Linked DNA regions of Homo sapiens: all the other regions are linked to region 1. Evidence: fine-mapped expression QTL. A gene starts in region 1. Each other region holds a variant in brackets. All regions are shown on one strand. Distances are between the middles of the regions.

Region 1 (7,829 bases):
AGACTCTGGTTAACTAGGTTCTCCTGTGGGCAAACCTTGTTAGGAACACAATGTTCCGGTGTATTTCAAAATGGCTCTTTTTTCCCTCCCACTGCTTGAAGCACAAGGGAAATTTTTTCCATTATTCATTGTGAGAACCTGGTTGAACACCTGTAAGTAAAACTCATGAAAGTGTGGAGGCCTCCGTGGACTGGGTTCTCCTGGAATTTTTATCTCAGATTTGTTCACACAGTTTCCCGGAATTTGTCAGCTGTAGTTCAGGTTTTTCTACCTCCCAACTGATTCTCTGGGAGGTTTCTGCACCAGCAAGCCAGGACCCCCTGTGTTTGCCTGTTGGTCTCTCCAATTTGGGGGGACAGTGGTTTCCCCTGTGACCCAACCTCTATGATAGATCTAAGAAGAGTCGTGGTTTTTCAGTTTGCTCAGTTTTTATTTGATAGCTTTGAAAGATTTGAGTGCTTTCCCTATATAATTTTATTAAAACAGTTTGACCTCTTGGGTCTATCCCACCATTCACCATCACTTGGGAGCTATGGAAGATGTAACTATAAGCAAAAACACATGTTTTAAAAGCAACTTCACTGAGTCTCTACTATGTGCAAACATCTGTGCTGTGGATCATACGCAAAGGGATTCCCTTAAGAACTTGGTATCCTGCAGCCATTGCATTCATTCCAATAACTTACTATTGATCAAAATCTATTTAGAACTTCTCTTCTAGCATTCCTTCAACTGTGGAAATTGTCTGTGGTGGATGAATATTTTTGAATGCCTTCTATACAGGTCCCATAAGTGGGATCTAATATTTGATTTCAGAAACAACCAAAACACCAAATCAAAGTCAAGTTGTTGAATAAGGTTTGAATCCAATGAGGTGACACAATTTTTTTTGTGATGGAGTCTTGCTCTGTCGCCCAAGCTGGAGTGCAGTGACGCAATCTCGACTCACTGCAAGCTCCACCTCCCAGCTTCCTGCCATTCTCCTGCCTCAGCCTCCTGAGTAGCTAGGACTACAGGCACCCGCCACCACACCCAGCTCATTTTTTTTGTATTTTTATTAGAGACGGGGTTTCACTGAGGCAACACAATTTTTTAACATTGACTGGTTCTCTCACGTGGCTATTAAATTTCTCAAGGCAATTTCAAAAGTCATTATTAAAAGTCGAGCTGCTCAAGACATACTCTATTGGTTGGACTCACAGCTATATCTTATTTTAATCTAATTTTTCATAATAGGACTTGCTTTATTCATTGTCTAATTACCTATACTTAATAGTAAGATTGATCTTTTCCCTCCTGGAGAGCAAAAGGCCAAAGTTAGGAAGTGTGTTTCAATCCTCCCTAAGTTTACAGTACATAAACAATATGTTTGATATTCTTGGTTTAATTTACCTTCCCTTTCTCCCCACCTCCTCTGACACATTGACATGTTTTCTATTATTTAAACTCATTCTATTATTTAATTTATATTATTTAAACTCTTTCTATTATTTAATCTGGCAACTTTGTACCAGATTACCTTTTCTTCCTAGAGTTTTATTCTATTTCCTGGTACATTTTCCAGAATGTTCCAACACTGACTTTCCTTAAAATGGGGTTTGTGACACCATAAAACATCTCGTTCAAGCCAACCCCACTTCCAGCTGCTCTGTTATGGTGTTCTGAGCCAGTCTGAAAAAGAATCCCTTAACAGTGCTACTTCACAGTTATATGCCCAACTCACAGAATCACATTTTGCAAACTGTGCACTTTAGATTGTAACTGAAAACGGGGATGTCTCCCCTGACTCTGGCATGACTCCAAACATCTGAAATGTTAGAACATGTTGCTTTTATGCTGAACCATCACACAATTGCCTGAGTGCTGAAGGGGCTTGTTTCCACTACTGCTACTTTAGAGAGAGGGGGGCAGACAGAAATGGCTTTCTGTAATAAAACACGTGTGCTTGGGTGACAGGAAGGGGAGGGGAGCAGAGGAGTGAGTACCAGAAAGACGTCATTCAATTTAGCCATCTTCCATCTGAAAATAATGGAAGAGGACACTAAAAGAACATTGTAAAATCCCACCTTTTTAGACTCTGAGAACACCTAAGAACTGAGTAAAATGCCATTCATCATCAGGGTTAAAAAGTCAGATTTCTTGGTCTCTAGGATGAATCCCTTTGGGCAAATGCTTGGGACCCTAGGATCAGAAGATGAGTTATTGATCCTAACCTGAAAATAAAAAATGTCTGGATTGAATGCTTTAAGACAGAGCCCCTTCCCTTTTTTAGTCTGATTTCTAGAGCAGCTTTCTCCCAGATCATAACTGCAAAGTCTGTTCACTCTTGATAAATATTTAAAAGATGATGAAAAAATGAATTTCTTACAACTCATTGCCACCAGAATGACTTTTAGTTTCTCAGGTCGATGGGGGAGGATGATGGGAAGAGATGTCACTGATTTGGGGTAGGCAAACAAGGTCGACCTCCTATCACTTCATTCATTCAGTCAGTCAGCCGGTCGACACACATTTACCAAGCAACCACTGTGCCCCAAGCATCTAGGAAGGTCTCGTGGGGGACTGCACACTCTTGCACTGCCCCTAGGAGGCGCCCTCTCTTTCCCTTTCTGTTTCTCTCTCCCCTGACATTTCAGGAGTCTCAGGGGAAAATGCAAATGCGCCAAGAGACCCTAACTCAGAGCAAACATGACTAGTTCCAACAGAAACAAACTAGGCCTGAGGTAGGTTTCGGGAAGGAACTCAGAGGCTGGAAAACCTGGTCTGCCACTGCCCTGGCTGGTCACTCAGACGTTCTGAGCCTTGGTTTTTACCATCTGTAGAACGGGCGGTGGAATAAATTATCCCTAAAACCTCTCCCAAACTTAAGCTTCTACTTTTCCAAGATCCTAACGAGCCTTTGTGTCGCCAGGGTGCAGAAATGCACTGTTTCCACTACTGCGCGCTGTGCACCCTTAAAAAGCATCGCGTGATGTGGTCATTCCAAACACACACACACACACACAAACACACACACACACACACACACACCTACCTCAGCCTCCCGCTCCTGATTATGCGTTTAAAGTTCTTAGGTGATCCCAGGTTCGCAAGTGCTCAGCTATAGCAAGTTTCCTTTAATTTTAGGTAGAATTTGTTCATGCAATACTTTCGCACTGAGTACTGCAGTGGAGTCAGCTTCCTTTCCAAAGCCCAGGCAACAAGGAAAAATCTGAAGTAAAGACAAAAGCTCTCCTTTGCCTTGGGGAGAGAGTAAGGAGCTAGTAAGGGGCCCCATGATGAAAAGAACCTAAAGCGGGAAACATTGTGTTTTCCTGCTCAGAGGGTAATGCTGGCTCCCTAGGGCTATGTCCGGGGTTCTCCAGCCCCACTCCAGGGCTCTGCTTTCCCGACCTTGCTACCGTGATGCCCCGGCCGGGAGGCAGGCGGTGCTCGGGTGCAGCTTCGGGGCTAATCCGAGGGCTGCGTGTCAAGCCCGCACATTGAGGCCTGCGGAGAACTGAGACCCCAGTCCCCGCAAGCCCAGCCTACGCAGGAGAGCGCTGCCCTCTAGCGACTATAATGGGACATGCAGCGCGGCCGGAGCCCCGCGGGAGCAGCGCCGCTGCAGGTCCTAGCGACTGTAGAAATCAGCCCTTTGCAGAGGGCGCAGAGGGCCTGGAAACCTCTGGGACCTTTTCCCAGGAACTGTTTATGGTTTCCCCCTAGGTCTAGGAGACATAGATGCATAGGTGGATTGGATACATCGATGGTAGCTATAAGGTAAGCAGACAATGGTCACAGATGGAAAGGTGGACGGACGGATGACGGATGGTTAGAAGATGTTTTGAGGGCTTGCTATAGTGCCAGGCACAAGGCTAAGAGATTTCGTCCACTATTTCATTTGATTCTCTCCAGAACCTTATGAATGGCATATTACCTCTGTTCCTATTTTTCAAATAGGGAAACTGAGGCCTCAGGCAATGTAAGCAGCTTGCCGCTTAGCAATCTTTTGCAGAGCCAGGAAGCGGGAAAGCGTGTCTTAATGGACAGTACCAGCCTCCACAGTGTGCCCTCGGCCCCCTCCCGGTGGAGAAGAGGTTCCAAGCCCCGGCGTCCCGGGTAGGGTGTCCCTCATCCCTCCCTCCCCACCACACTCCTGGCGCGCTGACATTACACCCGCCCCGGCACCCCCCTCTCACTGATCCAACACCCCCGGACACCCTGGACAGCGCTCTCAAGGCAGTAGGTCTTCGACTTGGGAGCCCCGGGGAGCTGGTTAAACACGGATCCTCTCCCACAGTGGCTGAAAAGCGCGCAGTCCCGGAACCTGAGGGTTTACCTGCTTCTACGCTTGGCCAAGGGTCTCTAACTGGAAAGGTGAAAATTCTGTCCTGAGATTTTAAGATTCCCAGAAACTTTCAATCGTTCAGTTCCTGTAACCATTAATTGAGCGCCTAAACTGCGCACCTTGACGCTGTTAGATGCTGCAGTAAGGAACTCGGAGTCAAGTGTGGGGGACAGGTTGGTCAATAAATGACGACATTCCGGACGGCTGTGCTTGGTGCCCACGGGGACCCGCGAGGGGGCCCAGGGAGGAGGCGGGAAAGGGGCAGGTTCACCGGCCCGCTGGGTCTCCAGCACATTCCAGAAGTCTAAGCCAGTCCATCTATCCTTCCAAACGCCCCCACCTCGCTTCCCTCCCTGGAGCCCGCATCCCACGGTGCAATTTCAGTGACTTTATGCGGAGAAACTTGATCCTATCTCACTCTCCCCAAACTTCCTAACTGCCTTGGGTTTGTCACCTGGCCGTGTGGGGAGCCACCGAGCGCCCCCTGTGGCCCCCACCCGAGCTCGGCGGGGGGAGCGGCGCGCGGGTGCTGGGGGACCGACCCCTCCCGCGAAGGCGTCGGCGCGGGGCTGGCGTAGGGCCTGCGTCAGCTGCAGCCCGCCGGCGATTGGGGCGCGCGCGCCTCCTTCGGTTTGGGGCTAATTATAAAGTGGCTCCAGCAGCCGTTAAGCCCCGGGACGGCGAGGCAGGCGCTCAGAGCCCCGCAGCCTGGCCCGTGACCCCGCAGAGACGCTGAGGACCGCGACGGTGAGGCCCTACGTCCGCCAGCACACCCGGGCCCGCTTCTCCCCGACGCCCGCCCTCCTCACACTTGCCTTCTTCTCTTCCCTCTAGAGTCGTGTCTGAACCCGGCTTTTCCAATTGGCCTGCTCCATCCGAACAGCGTCAACGTGAGTGAATTTGCCCGAAGCTTGTCTTTGCTGAGCGGGTTTGGGGACGTCTGCCCGCCCTCTTTCCCTTCACATTTCATTGCATGGGTTCCCCAACAGCGTTCCCTGGTTCTTCTTTGTGACCCCAGTCAATGTCCTGCCTCCCCCGGCTCCCGCTCTCTCGCCCCTGGTCTGCGGCGTTCTCTCCGGAATCTTGCCCTGGGCCGCGGACGCCCAGGAAAAGAGCCGGGTGCCCCAGGCAGCCTCGCGTTGGGGGCGACCGCGCCATCCCGGGAACCGCGAGGCGATCTGAGTCGCCTCCACGTCTACCTAAAAGCTGTCGGCCGGGAGGGCGGGGCCCCAGAAAGGAGCATTCCTGCGGGCTTTTGCTCGACGATCCCCTGCTGAGGCTGTCGCGGCGAGGGTCCTGCCGAGGGACCCCGTTCTGCGCCCAGGCAGGCTCGAAGCACGCGTCCCTCTCTCCTCGCAGTCCATGGCGCGGTTCCTGACACTTTGCACTTGGCTGCTGTTGCTCGGCCCCGGGCTCCTGGCGACCGTGCGGGCCGAATGCAGCCAGGATTGCGCGACGTGCAGCTACCGCCTAGTGCGCCCGGCCGACATCAACTTCCTGGTGAGTGTTGCGCGCGGCGAGTGTTGCGCACCTTGTGAGACAGAGTTTCCGCAACAGTACGCGGACTGCCTCCGGCCCACCGCGCGGCGCGTATGGCGGTTCGCACCGGGTCGGAGCCGCAGCGGCGCGAGCCCGTGGTGACCTGGGTGTCTCAGCTGTTCCTGGAACACTGACTGAAGTCCTGCCCTGGCTCTTAGCTTCGGGGATCCGCGACTATCTGGGGACCGGTAAGGGTAGCGGTGTCGCCGCACAAACCAAGTTTGTTTTAACCCTGGGAATTCGGGAACCCCGAGAAGTCCTCTGTTCAGCACCTCGGATAGCACTGGGTTCTCTCCTGGGCTGTCAGAAGGAAGATGGCTGTCACCACAACTCCTAACATATCCCAGCTAAGGGCCCCTCCACACGCAGTCATCTTCCCATCTTTCCCACAAATAATGTAATTTTTTGTTAGTGACATTTCGGTGCCTTTCTTTAGATTTATGTTCCCCAGCTCTCTTAACCTCAGGTCCCTCATTCCCTACCCTCACCTGTAAATAGGAGAGAGCAAAGGGATGGAAAAGGGGTACGGGGAGAGGAAGGCGAAATAACCGTAGACAGGAAAGAGTTCAAACTGTCTCACTAGCCAGTGATGCTGGAATTCAACTTCTGTTTCAACTGCCCTTTGTAATAGTAACTAAAACAACAGTTTAATTTGGCTATGAGAAAGGAACAAGAGAAGTGGCCAGTGTCCAATGGGTGACAACAGTCCAAAGATACACTGCACTACAGGGGGTTGGGGAAAGAAAAAGCTGAGGACAAAATAACTTTCATTCTGATCATGGTTCCCCATGGGCTGTCGAATCACCTCTGGTGCTCTACTGAGTCTGAATCTCCAACCTCGAGACTCAGGTAGCTTCACTTTTACCAGCTCCCCTGACAATTCCTTTGCATTGCTTTTGAAATTTGTTGAAATTTTATGGTGACTTAAAAAGCTCATAGAGAATAATGTATTCATCCAAGCTGCTTTGGGTTCCACCTGGAATTGAGGAAATTTTACCTTATGTAGATGTTTGAAATGGGGAGAAAACCAAGGAACAGTTTCCAAATATCTGTGGTATATATTTCAGGTTAAATGTTTGTTTCTTTGACCTGTGCTAACTTGGCATTAAAGAGAAGACACATAGGAAGGTTGTATATTTAAACTATGAGAAAAATGTTTCATCTTCAATAGGAGAAACAATCCCCTTCACCCATCTTTCTTCTTTCTCCTGTAGTCATGAGCTTTTAACCTATGCCTAAAAATTGAGCCAGTGCTACAAATATAAGGATAGATCTTGTGGATAAAGAATTTTAGACACAGAAGGAGGAAGAAAAATCCAAAACATGCCACATAGAAGACTCCACTTTCTGACCCCATAATTCCCTGTGCCCAGTCACACATATTTTGAGCTTTGCCTGCTCAACATGTCAGGGGCTCAGCCCCCTCCCCTAGCTTTCTCTGCCATCTGAATAAAGGTTATATGGATTCTAGTCTAATTTTTCTAATCACACAGACTGACCCCAAAGTAGTATCATATTTACTTAAATTATGTGAGTTAGCGAATTAATATGACTGACTTTTAATCATGCCTATTCAAATGGGTTTTTTTCATACTTAATCTATTTGATTCACCAAGCTCCCAAAATGCTACTAATCTTCCTTTTGCATTGTTGAGGAACTTGAGCAGAGCTCACTGGGTAGCAGCTAGCTCTTCCCTGGGTATCACCTCAAATCTTGACTTCTCTCCCTCTCTCACCCTCTTCTCATCATGTAACAGGATTGTGGGGGAGGAGAAGAGGAAGGCTGCTCTTTCCAGAATTTTCCATACTGCTTTTTATGCTCTTGTTGTTATCACTTATTACTATTATCATTACTTTAATCCAGGTGATGGAATGGCACGTGTAGTGTTAGCAACTTGAAAAAAATAGATAATAAGCAACCATCAATAAAAATAGTCTTATAGAAAGGCATTTTGCATAA
Region 2 (7,829 bases), 67 kb before region 1:
TTTCCAAAATGGTGACTCATACTAGGATTACATATAAAACATCATATGTGGGCCTTATATGTAATAATGTGTAAGTATAGTATATTAATTACTCTGACATAACATGGGCAGAGATTTGTATTAATTTATTTCTATTTCATCTAATCAATATTTTACTTAAGTCTAAAACCTTATATATATATTGACATGTATCATCGTATATATAAACATTGTATCTATTGAACTGAGCAATCTGTAGTTTATTTTAAATTCTGATACATTAAAGATGTGGAGAACTACATGAAATCATAGGAAATTTTTCATTCAAATAAAAATTGCAAAGAGCCATTCCTAAATGGCAACCTGGTTTTAGCTGCAAAGACAGAAAGTGATAAGAAGAGACCCCGAAAATATAAGTTATGCAAAATGTCAACTTATACATAGATGGCTAAACTCAGGGTTCACTGTCTGGACTTAGCAGAGAACATGTTTGCAGAAAAAGAAAATGGAGGCCGGGTGCAGTGGCTAATGCCTGTAATCCCAGCACTTCGGGAGGCTGAGGTGGGTGGATCACCTGAGGTCAGGAGTTTGAGACCAGCCTGGCCAATATGGTGAAACTCTGTCTCTACTAAAAATACAAAAATTAGCTGGGCGTGGTGGTGTGCGCCTGTAATCCCAGCTACTCAGGAGGCTGAGACAGGAGAATCGCTTGAACACAGGAGGCAGAGGTTGCAGTGAGTGGAGATCGCGCCACTGCACTCCAGCCTGGGAGACAGAGCAAGACTCCGTCTGAAAAAAAAAAAGAAAGAAAAGAAAAGAAACTGGAGACTAGTTATTATCATCAGGAAAGTCAAATGATGGAACAAATAGAAATGAGAATCTGTAGATAAAAATTATAGATTCACATAGCATCAATTCTAATTTCAAGTTTGATTGTCTGGTCCCAGTAGGCTCTATCTATAGTTCAATTACGATCAATGCTGTATTGACGTTGACAAAATCTGAAAAAGATGCTTCAATGAATGCTTAAGTTAAATAGGTCTCAAACAAAATAAGGAAAAGGAAAAGAAGAAATAAGAAGGAGGAGGAGAAGAGGAGGAGGAGGAGGGGAAAGAGGAGGGAGAATCAAGCTATCTATTTCATTAAAGCCATCTCAAGCAGCAAACTTTGGACTACATTGTCATCACTATACTAGAAATAGACTGTGTCTATACACTAAGTATACTGTAGCAGGTTTCCATTACTAGCCAGCCTCCAAGACCACTGACTTAATTTTCTGCTGTTTAGAGTCATGCATAATTTAAATTGATCAAATACTTTTCTAATGCTCTATTCCTATCCCAGATGTAATATACCTTTCTATTCCTTGTCAAATCTTAAGAAATAGTAGCCCTAAGGATGCAAAGTTGCTGAAAGTGCATCAAGGCAAGAAACAAATTCCTCTTCCCTTTATTCCACAAACACTGTCCTCACCGACCTGAGGTTTCCAGCAAGGGAACTGTATATCAAGCAGGCACAGGAATTGCCCCTGGTGTTCAGGATTTACAATCCAAGAAACAGCATGTTAGCAAAAGTACTCCCCTAAAAAGTCATCTTGGCTTGTTTTGATTAAGTCTATTTCCTTTTTTATTTATAGTAGAAGAGGTGCCGGACAACTCGTATGAAAGCATACCGTATCTCTTGCCTTCTACAGAACATGCAATTGTTTCCTACCCGTGGATCTCGTTTCTAAATGAACATTTATGGTCCTCCATAATCTGTCTCTGCTTTCTTCTGCTCATATTTATCTTCCTGTACTTCTCAAAATGAATCCTAAGTTCTAACCAGGACAATTTTCTAACTGTTTTTCCTACTTACTCTTGTTCTCTTTTTTTTTTCTCTTTTGAGACAGGGTCTTGCTGTGTTGCCCAGGCTAGAGTGCAGTGGCATGATCTCAGCTCACTGCAACCTCCGCCTCCTGGGTTCAAGGGATTCTCCTGCCTCAGCCTCCCGAGTAGCTGGGATTGCAGGCTACACCTGGCTAATTTTTGTATTTTTAGTAGAGATGGGGTTTCACCATATTGGGCAGGACATCCAGTGATGTGCAGTCTGGGACTAGGATGGCAGTTCCATGACGTTGCCAGAGCCCAGGTCCTCCGATTGTTCTGACCAAGCACCCTGAGGAAGTGGCTTTTGTCCTCACAGTGTCCTCATGGTTGTAATCCACCTGATACTCCTCCTATATCCCATACACAGGCACGGAGGACGAGCCAATGGCCGAAAACTTCCTTCTCCAAGGCTTTGCCTTTTAATTAGAGAAGAGAACCTTTCCCAGGAAGTTCTATGTACATATTATTGGCAAAGACTGCCTGCCCTGCTACCTACCTTAAGCTACACACAAAAGCTGGGAGATTGAATATTCAGCTTCCCAGTGTCTAAGACAAGGGAACACAAGGGGCTGGGAGATTGAGATGCATGTTGAATAAGCCAACCTATAGTATTTGCTGTACCTTCATAGTCAGCTTATAAACCTATACATTTATCAAAGAATTCGCCCTAAATCTACCCTTGAAAAAACTGCATTAACTGTGGATATTCACAAGGACATGTCATGGACTCTGCAGGCAATTCCAAAAAAGAAAATGCAAATATAATTTGTACAATAGCAGCAACATTGAAATAATTATTCAGATTCCAAGAGCAACTATATTAAAATGGACCACATTCATCTAAACAGATGTCTTCTTAAATGTTTGGGCTTTAAACCAAGTCGGCATGTCACTGCAGAGTGGCGTGTTTACTATATTATTCCCACAGGATGCATATGCACACATGTGGGTTTCTTGAAAAGGTAGGAAGCTCTTTGAGGGTGGCCTGTGCTCTGTGCCTTTTTGTTACCTCTATTGTACCCAGAAGGGTTCACGATAGAATACACTGAGGTGTACAATTTAACTCACAAATGGACAGGGTGATAGGCAGCCACAGATTTTTGCTGGGCACTTAGGGCATCTTATTTTATATTTTTTTGTTTGTCTTTTGTTTTGTTTTGTTCTTTTAGACAGAGCCTCTCTCTGTCACCCAGGCTGGAGTTCAGTGGCGAAATATTGCTCACTGCAACTTCTGCCTCCCGGATTCCAGCAATTCTCCTGCCTCAGCCTCCCGAGTAGCTGGGATTATAAGCGCATGCCACCACACCTGGCTAATTTTTGTATTTTTTGTAGATACGGGGTATCACCATGTTGGCTAGGCTGGTCTTGAACTCCTGACCTCAAGTGATCCACTGGCATTGGCCTCCCAAAGTGCTGGGATTACAGGTGTGAGCCACTGCACACCCGGCCTACTTAAGGCATCTTAATATTATAGTTGCACCTAGCAGAGTTCTTGTATGTGGTAACTACTCAAGTCTTTTCTGTATTGGATAAGGCAATTCATCTGCCATAGGCTAAACAGGGGTGACCCTTTTTCTGAGAAACTGCTCTAGAAATGTGTGCTAGACACTTCTGACATTTCTCATTTTCTAGCTATTTAGTTGTCAACTTCTTTGAGTAGGGAATACATATAAGTAAAAATAGAAAGAGCAGCAGCATTGCACAGCTCCACAGGCATCATTCTTATCGGAGCTGACGTGAGGGGCATCTCCGGAGCTGTGCTCTGTATGACCCATGTGGCTGTATGCAGCAGGCCTTTGGGAATACTGCAAGGGACATGGCCTGTACCGTCCTTATGCATTTAACGATGAACGATGGCTTAGAAAGAAAAAGTATTCTGCAGGATCAAACCTCAATTCAAAGAATGCTTTGCTATTAGATCCGTGGCTAATTAGACCCATTTTACGCATCATATGGCAAACAAGTGTTCTTTCTCCCTTCGATGAAATAACCTGTAAAGCAGATGAATTTTGACATTTCTCATTGAGACACCCAGGATGGTGAGGAAGACCAACAACACTGTCCACAATGCTGCCCTGTGATGTGCAGGATAAATGTCAGATGTGAATTCGGATTTGATTCAAGGTCTCATGAAAGCTAAATGCCACTCAGAACACCAGCTCACCCTTGTGAATTCTGACGTCAGTGTTAGGCGCCACTGAAGCCCCCTGGTTTCTACTTTTAGAGGAGTCCAGTTGCAGTATGTAGGTCAAGCAGCTCAAGAATGTCAACTGCAAAAACTTTGAGGGCTTTTGTGAGCCAGTTCCTGTCACGACGGTAGCTCAAAGTTGGCCATGATGAAACTATTTACACCAAAGAAAACCACAAATCAGTGGGTTGTTTTTTTTTTTTTTGAACTGGTTGGAAAACGTTTATGAATGCACCACTGATCATGTGTAAAATGAGAAAGCAGCTGCAGCCTCATTGTTACCTGGGCAGAAACACCCAGGTCACAGTCAAAAAAGCCAGGGTGTGCTAATAGAAAATCATTAAACTCTAGGAAATAGAGTCAAATGACAAGTATTCAGCATCTACAGATGTTCTACCCCATGCTGAGTCCTGCAGAGATGAAATAGAAAGCTCAAAGCCAATTCTCTGACTTTAAAGAGCTTTCGACTGACTGACTTCAAACTATGATCATATTCCTAAGAGCAAACACTCAACGAATCCTGGCTGTGTGCCAAATGTCTGTCACCTCATTTCATCCTGAAAACCTGATGGCATTGTTCCTGTTATTAGCCTCATTTTGTAGATGAAGAAATGGAGGCTTAGAGAATCTTAGTCTATCATTCAAGTTTGCACAGGAAGTGAGCAGAGCTGGGAGCCAGCCCCAAGCAGACAGAAGCACCTGATGGTGACCCCCACAACCCAAGAGCACAGTGCAAGTGAGGGCGGGTCCACGCCAGGGCTGTGTGTGTGGATCAAGGGATACCCCAGAGACACAGGAGAAGGACAGACCCGACCGAGAGGAGGCAGGAGGCCACAGGGATGAAGGCAGAAGAAAAGTACAGAGCTGGGGTGAGCATGGGGTGGATCCCAG[G/T]CCATCTCAAGGATCTCCTCCAAATGGGCCTTCAGAGGCAGATGTGACATCACCTCCCCATGAGAAGCTGCCAAAAGGCAATGCTTGGGCAACCAGCTCCTCTACAGTGGATGAAGGAGAGTGAATCTAAACACATCGCTATGAAATTTCCCTTTCCTTAGAAACTCTAAGTCAGTGCTCCAAATTCTCATTCCCCACAATTAAAATTGAACTAAAACTAATGTTTGTTTCAGTGTACCAAAGCATATTTTAATAAGATAATTACAAAAAGTCTGCTGGTAGAAATTACACTTTGCATTCATGTCATGGTTTAAAGCTGATGCTGCTGGAAATTGTAAGACTCTAGTCTAGTATATCTAAAAACAGATTAAGTACTAATTAATGATTTCCTCTCTTTAGTGAGCCTGACATCTCATTAACTAATTATCATCAATCTTTAACTTTTTCAAAGCATGATGTTCTGCCTGCCAAGGTTCTGTGGGCTGTCTTCTTAACACTGTGGTACAATTCTCCACCCTGGCTCCAGCATAGCAAAGCTGTGCTACATGGAATCAGATACTCTGTGAGCCAGGCTACACCCTCTGAGATGCATGAACGCCACACAGAAAAGCTTTAGTGAAATAGCTGCTAAAGTAGTTACAGTGCTTTCCCTGCCCACAAATGCCAGAACTAACCAGGGCTCAACTGGCTGTGCAGATGCACAGTAGACAGAGAGAGGAGAGTCCTTTGTCTGTGATGGGCGGGGACAGTGCAGTGGGAAGGGGGCTCTCCCAGCTTCCTTTCTTTCCTCTGACATCAGATATTTAGAAAGCAATTCCACTATTCCACAATTCCACTTTGGAAATGTTTCTTGACTCAGTTTCAGCAAGACACTAAATTAGAACACAATCATCCCTGCTTTTGACTTATTAAAGGAATGACAATTTAATATTATCAAAGAAACAGACTAAAATCTAAGTTCAAGATCACTCATTGAAGCATTTTTTATAATAATGAATATTTAGAAACAATATAAATGGCTAAAATCAAGTAATAATTTATTTTTATCATGACATCATATATCATATAGCTATTAAAAAGCATGTATTTGGCCGCGTGCGGTGGCTCACACCTATAATCCCAGCACTTTGGGAGGCCAAGGCGGGCAGATCATGAGGTCGAGACCATCCTGGCTAACACGGTGAAACCCCGTCTCTACTAAAAATACAAAAAAAAAAAAAAAATTAGCCGGGCGTGGTGGTGGGCTCCTGTAGTCCCAGCTACTCAGGAGGCTGAGGCAGGAGAATGGCGTGAACCTGGGAGACAGAGCTTGCAGTAAGCCAGATCACGCCACTGCACTCCAGCCTGGGTGACAGAGTGAGACTCCATCCTCCCCCACCAAAAAAAAAACATGTATTTGAAGACTATCAAATCTCATGGGGAAAATGTCACAATGTAATGTCAGGTGAAAAAAAGCAAAATATAAACTTTATTATTTCAAGTTTAAAACAAAATTTATGGGTGTTTCTGTGTATATATATGTGCACATGTATATGTAAATAGTGATATTTTGTGTATTGCCAATATTAAATACATAACATATTTTAGCATATAAATATTATGTAATCTATATTTATATATAAATAGTATAACAGATATTTGTAATAATATGTGTTTAATGTATATTTCATATTGGATACGTAAAATTTTGCTAGTTATTTCTGAGAAGTTGCTTTGCAGAGGAATTTTATATTATTCTTCCTATTTTGAAATATTTCTTAATTCTCTATAATAAGCACATATAATTGTATAGTTAGAAAAACATTTAAGAACGCTTGGATTAATTTGGTAACCAGCACACTCTTCCTAGACATAAATATCTCATAACACTTCACTCACTGCTTCCCTAACAAACTGACTGTTCCTCTTGCTACACTTCTGTGACCGTGGGCGCCATTTCTGGCCTGCTCTCACCCTCCCTGGCTGTCTGTGAAGGCTGATGTGTCCCCATCAATCCAGTGCACATAATTGGAGCTCCGCACACCCTCACATGCTCAACTGTGCTCCAACCAGCAGGCAGGGTAGAGACAGTGTTATATGACAAACAAGTGAAGCTGAACTGTCTCTGGATATTAGACGAAAAAAAATTGGGTTTGCCCTTGGCTAGGGACCTATTCCACCAATTTATCACCAATTAGCTCCCTCCACCACACTCACTCATCCCTGAGGCTGGCTCAAAGGAAACATGAATGCCTGAGCTGTGGGTACTGCTGCTTCTAGAACAGTGTAAAGCTTTGTCCATGAGCATCTGTATCAAAGTCACCTGTGATCCTTTTAAAAAGTGAAGTTTCCAAGCCCTGTGTCAGACCTACAAACCAGGGCAGTTTTCTTACTGTCAATGAAAAGCAGAGCTTTTAAAAGAATGTACTTGAACTGAATACATGAAAATGAAACCCAGTATGAAGTCACCCTGAGTCACTCTGGGGACTTGAAAGGCAGGTCTCCTGGGACAGAATGAGTGCCAAAGCCCAGGAGAGATGGGGAGAGGGGCATCCACCAGGCAAGCCGCTGCCCCTGGAATTCCGATTTAATAAGCAGACTAGGGCTTGTGCACACCAGAGGGTTGCATGACTTTTCAGAGGCGAATCACAGCACCCGTCCGGAAGAGCGAAGGAGCAAGAGAGGGTTAACATGGCCTAGACTGGATAAAGATGACTGGGCATTGCAGTCACCTACAACCCAAGTGCTGACTAACAGCCAGGCTCTCTGTGTGGTCCTAACTTCAGCATCATTCTGGCAGGGATTTTGGGCAGCTTCAACCCAAAGAAAGTCCATGGAGAAGGCTTGGTCATCATCAGTTCCACTGGGTTCTTCTGGAATCCTGATTCTTGCCTTATTGGCTCATAATTCACATCCTTGAAAGA
Region 3 (7,829 bases), 250 kb before region 1:
CACACACACACACACACATACTTTTATATACACACATATATATAGCAGATATATATGTGTGTATATAAAAGTATGTATATTTATAAGTGTATATGTATACATTATAATATGCAAAATATATATGTATTATATATATTTTTTGGCCTATGCTATAAGAAGCCTACCAATTATGAAATGTTATGTCTTTCTAATATATTGACCCTTTTATTATTATAGAATGTATTATAGAATGTATTATCACTTTCATTAAAGCCAATTTTGCCTGTTAATATAGTTTTAACAGCCTTCTCTCGGTTATTTTTTAAGACTTATCCATCCTTTTACTTTCCACTGTTCTATGTTTTTATATTTATGTGACAAGCATCATATAGTTGGGTTTTGTATTATTATCCAATTTTAAAATATTGGTCTTTTAATTGGCTTATCTTTGTTTCCTTATCTTTCATTTGCCTAAATAATGTGCTTTAATATTTCTTTTAAAGGCTTAATGACAATGAATTTTCTCCTTGTTTTAATTATCAAAAATATCTTTATCTCTATTTTTAAGGATCTTTTGACAAAGCAAAGAATTCATGATTGACAGTTGTATTATTTTAGCCTTCTAGTGATATAATTCCATTGTAATTTGTCTTCTTTTAATTCTGTGGGAAAATCAGCCCTTGATCTTATTGTTCTTCCTTGGAAGGTTTTATCATTTTCCTCTGCATGCAAAAGAAAAGATTAATCTTTTCTCTTTGATCTTTAGCAATTTACCATGATATGCCTATATGTGAATTTATTTTATTCATCCCATTGCCGTTTTATAGAACTTACTGAATCAGTGGTTTGAATCTTTCACATTTTGGAAGAATTATCTAGTATTTCTTCTCATTTTGCTCTGTCCTTCTCTCCTCTCCAGTTACACCCACTTTAGATTTGTACTTATGTCCTACATGTCTATTACATTCTCTATTTTTCATTCCCTTTTTATGTGTCCTTTAGTTTGAGTATTTCCTCTTGACCTAGCTTCTGCTTCACCAAATACCTTTTCTGCTGAGTCAAATTTCCTCTTAAATTAATCTCTTATTAATTTCAATTAATGTGATTTTCCAATCTAGAATAATTACCATTTGACTTTTTTTATGGATCCCAGTTCTCTGGCTAGTCTTCATTGTATAGTTTATTTTTTGAACATATTTGTCACTGCTATTGCCAGGTCTGAATCCTAAACTTTAATATCTAGATCACATGTAGGCCTATTCCTAATAGATTTTCCTGCTCTTGGTTTTGGTCTTTTGGACATTTCCTGACACATATAATTTTTGCTTGAGTGTTGGGCATTATACAACATTTCAGGGACTCTATGACATGATCTTTCTACAGAAAGGATTGAGTTGTCTTCTGTTAGGCAGTCAGGAGTTGTAGAGCATGCACTGATCCATTGATTGAGATGATTCAAGATGGATTCTGTCCATTGTCAGATTTTGTCCATTTTGGTTTTCCCAGAGTTTATCCTTTCAAGGGTATCTAATGAAAGTCTGGAGTGATTACTAGAAATTCTCTTTTTGGCAAGCTATAAACTCAGACTTTTGTGTCCTTATTCCCATGAGATGACCTGAAGCTCTGCTTGGGCTTTGCCCCTCCACGGCTCTCTCTACCTAATTTTGTCCTCCCATTCCATGCAGTGTAGGAACTGGTGAAGGCTTCAAGGGAAAAACCAGTTGTAAAATGTTGGACTTAATTCTCCAGGATCCAATTTCATACAGAATTTTGGTCCCTCAAGTCCTGGCTGCCTTTACAACTTTAAACTCCCATTATTTTCTTCTAAGGTCACTGAGACTATCAAATGCTGAGCCACTTTCTGCTCAGCCACCATGATCTGTGTGCTTAGGAATCAGTAAATAGAAAAGTATAGTAAATATCACCCAATGCACTTTATGGACTTGGTCCTACAAGGCCTGGTGTCCTTGATTGTCCTCCGGTGCCTTAAACAACTGGATTTTTTGCTTGTTTGTTTTATTTATATTTTGTTCAGCATTTTTCGTTTCTCTTGGTGACAGTGTTGATAGGTTGTTTAATATGTTGATAACCTAACAAGCTACTCTGTCAAAGTTAACAATAGAAGTCCTAATCATTCTCTTATAACATGTATTACAAAAAGTGACCTTCAGAGGTTAATGATATAGAATTGATAGCTGGCAGCCTAGTAGTGTTTTCTTTGTTAGAGAAAGACTTCCCAACTAAAGCAACTCACAGTAGAAATCAAGTGGAGAGAGGAAGAAAAACCCTATATGGTGTCTTTGTGTATATTACCCAAGAGAGGAATGGATCTTATAAATCTTTAAATTTTAATTAAATTCCTGATGTCTTGTTGCATTAGAAGAATAGTGGGGCCACTGAGGCTGGGATATTTCAGCTACATCAAAGAGATTGCCTTGAAATGCTTTCTGTATAGTGTTATTTGATATTCATGTTTTTCTTTCCCTCAAAGGTACGTTGAGCTCAAATGCAGTTCTCTGCATTTAAACTGCATAGACTTAGGAAATGAAAGTTTTCAAATAACTTGAAATGGTTCCTAAAACTGCAGTTTTATTTTGTTTAGAATGGGTGAAGCTAACACAGTTGGATTTCATTTATTCTTTTTTTTCTCTTTTACACTGTATAGCAATGGAGATTCAGGTTACACTATTATTTTAGAGAAAGTAATAAACTGAATGTGACATTTTCTTCCCTATGCATTGATCTTCTCATTTGAAATAAAAATAATTTCTCATGAATTAGATTTTAGGACGTGACACATTAGCTGCCTCCTGGGGACTGTGTACCCAAGGTCTTCCCCTTGATGCATTCTCTCAAATGCCCCTCATTGATCCAGGACCCAGGCAATTTTCTCACTCAGTCACTGCGGATAACAGCCACCCACAGATTCTCTTTTTGGACATTCTGTCAATTTTTTGACTTTTTGCTGCAATCTAAAAGACAGAGTGAACAATGTAAACCGAAAAATTTCAGGGAAATGGAAGAGACATAGGA[A/G]TATACAGGCCTTTCTCATAAAAGTCAAAGCCAAAATCCTCTGAGACTTGAACCAAAGAAAAGCTCTCCAAAGTGAATAAACAGGTTTGAAGTGTTTGCAGTGCTGTTTATTCATTACAGACTTGGCACAGAATAATAATACTGAAGATGTTTTTGCAGCTGATATATGAAATGGTGTACTAAGTAGACATTGATAAACTTTATTTAAGAGCCTACGGATTACAAATTTAAGCTATTATAACACTGTAGGCTTGATGTGCAGCTATATTACAGAAAAAAATTAAAAATGAGAGCTTTCAGACAGCAAAGAGTCACTGGCCTGGTCAAAATTTGAAATCTACAAAATTTTAGGCAATATGATGTGATTTAAATATCTGAATTGTTCTTGCACATAATTACTGAACCATGAAATAAGAAAAATAAAGTGAAAATTATTTTCTTTTGTAAAACAGAAGATGGAGGAAAATCAATCCTAGTTTCAGCGAGGTTTTGCAGTGCATGTGCAGGCTACGTTAATGTCACCCAGGAGCTTGATTGACAGATGCTCAAATGCCCAGCCCTATCCCTGCCCCATCTACTGAGGAACCCAAGCACCTGAAGTTCCACAAATGCTGCAGGTGATTTCTATTTATGCTATCATTTGAAGAACACTGATTTAATGTGACTGTCTATTAAAGTTTTATGCAAATTGCTTCCGTAAGTTTATTTTTTCTCAGAAAACTAATTCAGGAAATAACCTTTATAAGCCTGGATGATACTCAGTACCTTATCGGACTATGTTTTTGTATTTTCACTTACTGGCTTTGTTTTTAAATAGCCACAGAGTAGGTATGGGACACTGGGGGATGGAGAGCACATGACAGGAAGTAAAGGCAACTGAAGTTTCCACTGAGGTTGGGAGGAAATGGCCCGTAACTGCTTCCTATTCATCGTTTTGTGCAGATTGAGTTCTGTTGCCTTAGTGTGCTGAAGAGAGCCAAGGTACAGCCTGAGGTTGTAGTGGGTTTTATGCACATATTTTTGTTTTTCTTTAACCATATGAATCTACTTGGGGAGTATTTATAGGAAAAGCTCTAAAGGCAGTCAAGCACTTTTAGATTTCAATCTAAGTAGCCTATAAGTGAATGTTAAAGGGCAAAAAGAGTCCTTCAGTTTTTCAGTTAACATCCCAGGCACTGTGCTTGTGTTATGGATTTAAAAAAAAAATAAGTGAAAGGTCCTACTCTCAATAAATTTTGTTAATTTAGGAGGAGAAACCAAAAGCCAGGCAGGCAGTTAACGAAAGTATTGGCAGTATCACCATAAGAGTATAAGACTGATGTTGGGAAAAGGACCTAGCCCAGTGTGGAGGATCAGACAGGGCGGGGTTCCCTGAAGAAGTATAACTTAAGCTGAGACATGGGGGTCAAATAAGAATTAATTCATGAAAAACTTCAGGAAGACCAAGAAAAACCATTATTAATGGCAATATCCATTCATTCATTCGTTTGATCATTTTATTCATTTCATGCATTTATTCATTTAGTGACTTATGCATGTGTCACGTGAAAATCACTGAGCTAGACCCTAAGGACACAGCTGTGAAAATGCCAGACCTGGCAGCTATCGTCATGCAGTAGGAGAGACAGGAGACATCTTCCATTTCTGTTTTCCCCTAGAACTGTCTGCGGCAAAAGAAAGGTTCTCTGCACTGCCTAGTACTGTAGCCCTAACTACTGGGGCTATTGAGCATTTCACCTGTTTCTAATGTGACAGAAGACATAAATGTATAATTTAGTTTTAATATACACATGGCTAGTGGCTACTTTATCTACTGCAAGAGTGAAAAATTTCTAATCTAGATCCCCATAGGAACTCAAAGATGGGAACAAGTGGCATCTTAAAAATGGGCTCAGATGGAAAAGGGGCTGCCATGAAAGGATGGAACTTGGGAGATGGGATGCTTCCCAGCAAAGGGTGGTGGTGTGCATGCTCCTTGTAGTCAAGGTGTGACTTTAGCATTAATGGAGCCATGTCACCCATGGAAGGTACTGCTGTGATGTTATTTTGAAGCATGGATGAACTCATAAGTCAAAATTTTGCCAGAGGGGAACAGGCACCTCTGCTCACCTCTATTTTCATTCCTAGCAGGATTAAATTCATATTGTATTTGCTGAGCAGCCCAGGTGTTTAAGAAAAAGTTGTCATTCAGATTGATGGTACTTTAAAAAAAATCCATCAACATACAAGGAAAAATATCTGTGGTGGAGAGTTGAGTGACTCAGATTTAATAGCATAGCACATGAGACCACTGTGTTCCCTAGTTTTTTTAAAAAATGAATTATTGCCTTTCCCCTGTAAGCCTAGCAATATGGAAAGAGGGAAAGGAGGCTTTTCAAAGGAAACTGCTCTTTGGAATATTAATGCATTTATATCATGTGTCCACTGATTTATCTAACTAATATTTCTCCAATATTTTGTCTTTTGTCTTCAAATAGTTCTATCCAAACTGTACTGACTTAATTTTTCTACTATTTTTAAAAGCATTATCTATGAAGTTTTACTTTATAACTTGGAGAATTGATTTTTCATACAGTAAGATGGGTTTTCTCAGACTATCAAACCTTAAAAGTGGTATTTTGAATTTCTACTAAAGTCAGCATGTAGAAGGCTATAATGACATTCTCCTGGATCTTAAATAGGGGGTAAAGAATCTCTGGGTCTTGAGAACACCCCAAAGGCGAACTCTATACTTAAGCCACAAAACATCTCTCTGGAATAAGATAAGGAGACAAGGTCCCAGGGAAGGGAGGGAGGGAAGAAATGAAAGAACAGAGAAACAGGAAATAGGAGTAAAGGAAAAGGAGGAGGAGAAGGAGGGATGGAGAGACAGAGGGGGAGAGTGGAAAGAGAGAGAGAGAGAGCAAGCGAGAGAGAGAGAGAGCACATCATCAAAACACAACATCAAAAACTCCAGGCTATCTTCCAACCATCTAGAAAGCTAAAAAGTGTCATCAGATGATTCCCTGATTTGGCTGAAATAATCCCCATAATATGTTTTTAGTATTCACGATCATTTTTGAGTACCCTGATATCAGCAGGAGGCTACTTTGGAAGCCAGATGCAAATAAGTGTCTCAGAAATTAAAGACATCTTCCCCCATTGGATATCAATAAATCAGTATTCTAGAATTACTATTCTAGTAATATGTATTCTTGTTTTAGAGACTTGGTTAGTAGTCTGACCCCAAGAGGTCAGTCAGTTCTGTGTGGATAGAAAAACCAAATCCAGTTTCTGAACGGAAAACCTAAGGCCCACAGCCTGCAGAATGATGTATCACCCTGGTTATTACCACCCATGGGGACAGACCACATGACCATGCAGCATCAATCTCAGACTGTTCTCATTCTCGCTCCTTGACTGCAGTGTCCTTTGCTCATCTTTTTATTTTTTAAAATTTCAGTCATTTGAATTACAACCTGCTTATTATAATAATTCAAAAGGCAGTAATGTATTCAGAAGGAAGTTAATAGTGTATATTGCACATCTCCAATACCACTTCACCAGTGGCAGCCTGTGCCTCTCATTCATACCTTTTCTTTGCTGGTACATCTGTGCACCAACATAAAGATTTTGATTTAATTTTTAATACAGATGAGATTCCACTGTACATAGTATTTTGTGATTTGCTCTTGTTGTATTATATGGTTGCTATGAGTTCCAGATCAATGCACATATATCTGCTTCATGCTTTTAAAGACCTTCACAATAGTCTCTAGTATGAGTTTATTAAAATGTAGTAATTCTCTCCCTGATTGAATATTCAAATTTATTTTAAATTTTTGCTACTCCAAATGTGGTGAGATAATATTTTTGATATACTTATGCCTGACTTCCCTTTCTCTTCCATCTCACATATAGTCAGGGCCCCTATATTGACTGCCTCGGCAAGAGTATAGAGAGGTGAAGCACAAATGGCCCAGAAGAACTGTTATAGACTGAATGTTTGTGTCCCCCTAAAATTTATACATTGAAGCCCTAATCTTTAGTGCAACCGTATGTACCTCTAAGAAGGTAATTAAGGTTAAATGAGGCCATAAGGGTGGGGCCCTAATCCCATAAGACTAATGTCTTTATACAAAGAGATATCAGAGAGCTTTCTCTCTCCAAGTGCCTATGAGAAGTTGGCCATCTGCAATCCAGGAAGACAACCCTTACCAGAAATCAAATCAACCAGAACCTTGATCTTGGACTTCCAGTCTTTAGAACTTGTAGAACTTGGAGGAAATAATAGCTTGATGTTTAAGCTACCCAGTCTGTAGTGTTTTACCGTTTCACCTTAGCAGACTAATGTGGACCCCAATTCTCTAAGCCCAGGAAGGAAAATAAGATGTTATTGTAAATAAAATCTCTTGGCCAGAAAAGGAAAGTAAGGTTTCCATCAAGATGAGGGAAAAATTTCCTAGATAGAGCTGGCTAGAAGGTAAGAACCCCAGAAAGTGGCTGGGAAGACATACTTAGGCTACACTACAGGCAGACTCATAATAATGTAAGACAGTGGAGAAGTTCTCTTACCCTAATACTTTTATATTTTCCAGCTTACAAAATGTCATGTCTCCACCTCCTATCTCTGTATTGGTCATTAAAAGTTTCTGTTTCTCAGCTTTGTATTAGAGTGAACAATACTTTGATACCTCAACTGCAGATATTTACTCTCCATTTTCTCTTGATATCGTGTATGATGTTTATTGCCATGCACTTTTTAAATGTTATTTTAAGAAATCAAAAATTATTTCCCTTATAGATTTTAACTTTTTCAGTTAAAAAGCTCATCCTGC

Which allele goes with the higher level. Positions count from the first base shown, and alleles are read on the strand shown. Sizes are in standard deviations (SD) of each study's normalised expression. Not every link is listed here.
In carriers of allele T in region 2, the expression in left ventricle of the gene that starts at base 5,005 in region 1 tends to be lower than with G alone (small effect, 0.33 SD a copy in GTEx).

Evidence for each region. PIP is the estimated chance that this variant, and not a neighbour inherited with it, causes the effect.
Region 2: its variant is the best candidate, but not a certain one, in a credible set for the expression of PENK in left ventricle (GTEx, PIP 0.85).
Region 3: its variant is the best candidate, but not a certain one, in a credible set for the expression of PENK in tibial artery (GTEx, PIP 0.50).

What each region holds. Positions count from the first base shown.
Region 1 is chr8:56,443,817-56,451,645 of GRCh38, reverse strand. PENK (proenkephalin) reads left to right here and starts at 5,005. Exons shown (of 4, transcript NM_001135690.3): 1 at 5,005-5,077; 2 at 5,165-5,220; 3 at 5,690-5,830. The coding sequence starts at 5,693. PENK-AS1 (PENK antisense RNA 1) reads right to left here and starts at 5,839. Exons shown (of 4, transcript NR_125813.1): 1 at 5,146-5,839. RefSeq lists an enhancer at 5,343-6,234.
Region 2 is chr8:56,510,774-56,518,602 of GRCh38, reverse strand. The region is part of intron 2 of PENK-AS1 (PENK antisense RNA 1); the gene reads right to left. It overlaps LINC00968 (long intergenic non-protein coding RNA 968), which reads left to right. Exons shown (of 3, transcript NR_038236.1): 3 at 1-285. Among named protein-coding and RNA genes, the nearest start is that of LINC00968, 45 kb to the left of the region's middle. The variant G/T (reference allele first, on the strand shown) is at 4,927.
Region 3 is chr8:56,695,342-56,703,170 of GRCh38, reverse strand. The region is part of intron 1 of LOC105375852 (a long non-coding RNA gene); the gene reads right to left. Among named protein-coding and RNA genes, the nearest start is that of LINC00968, 140 kb to the right of the region's middle. The variant A/G (reference allele first, on the strand shown) is at 3,013.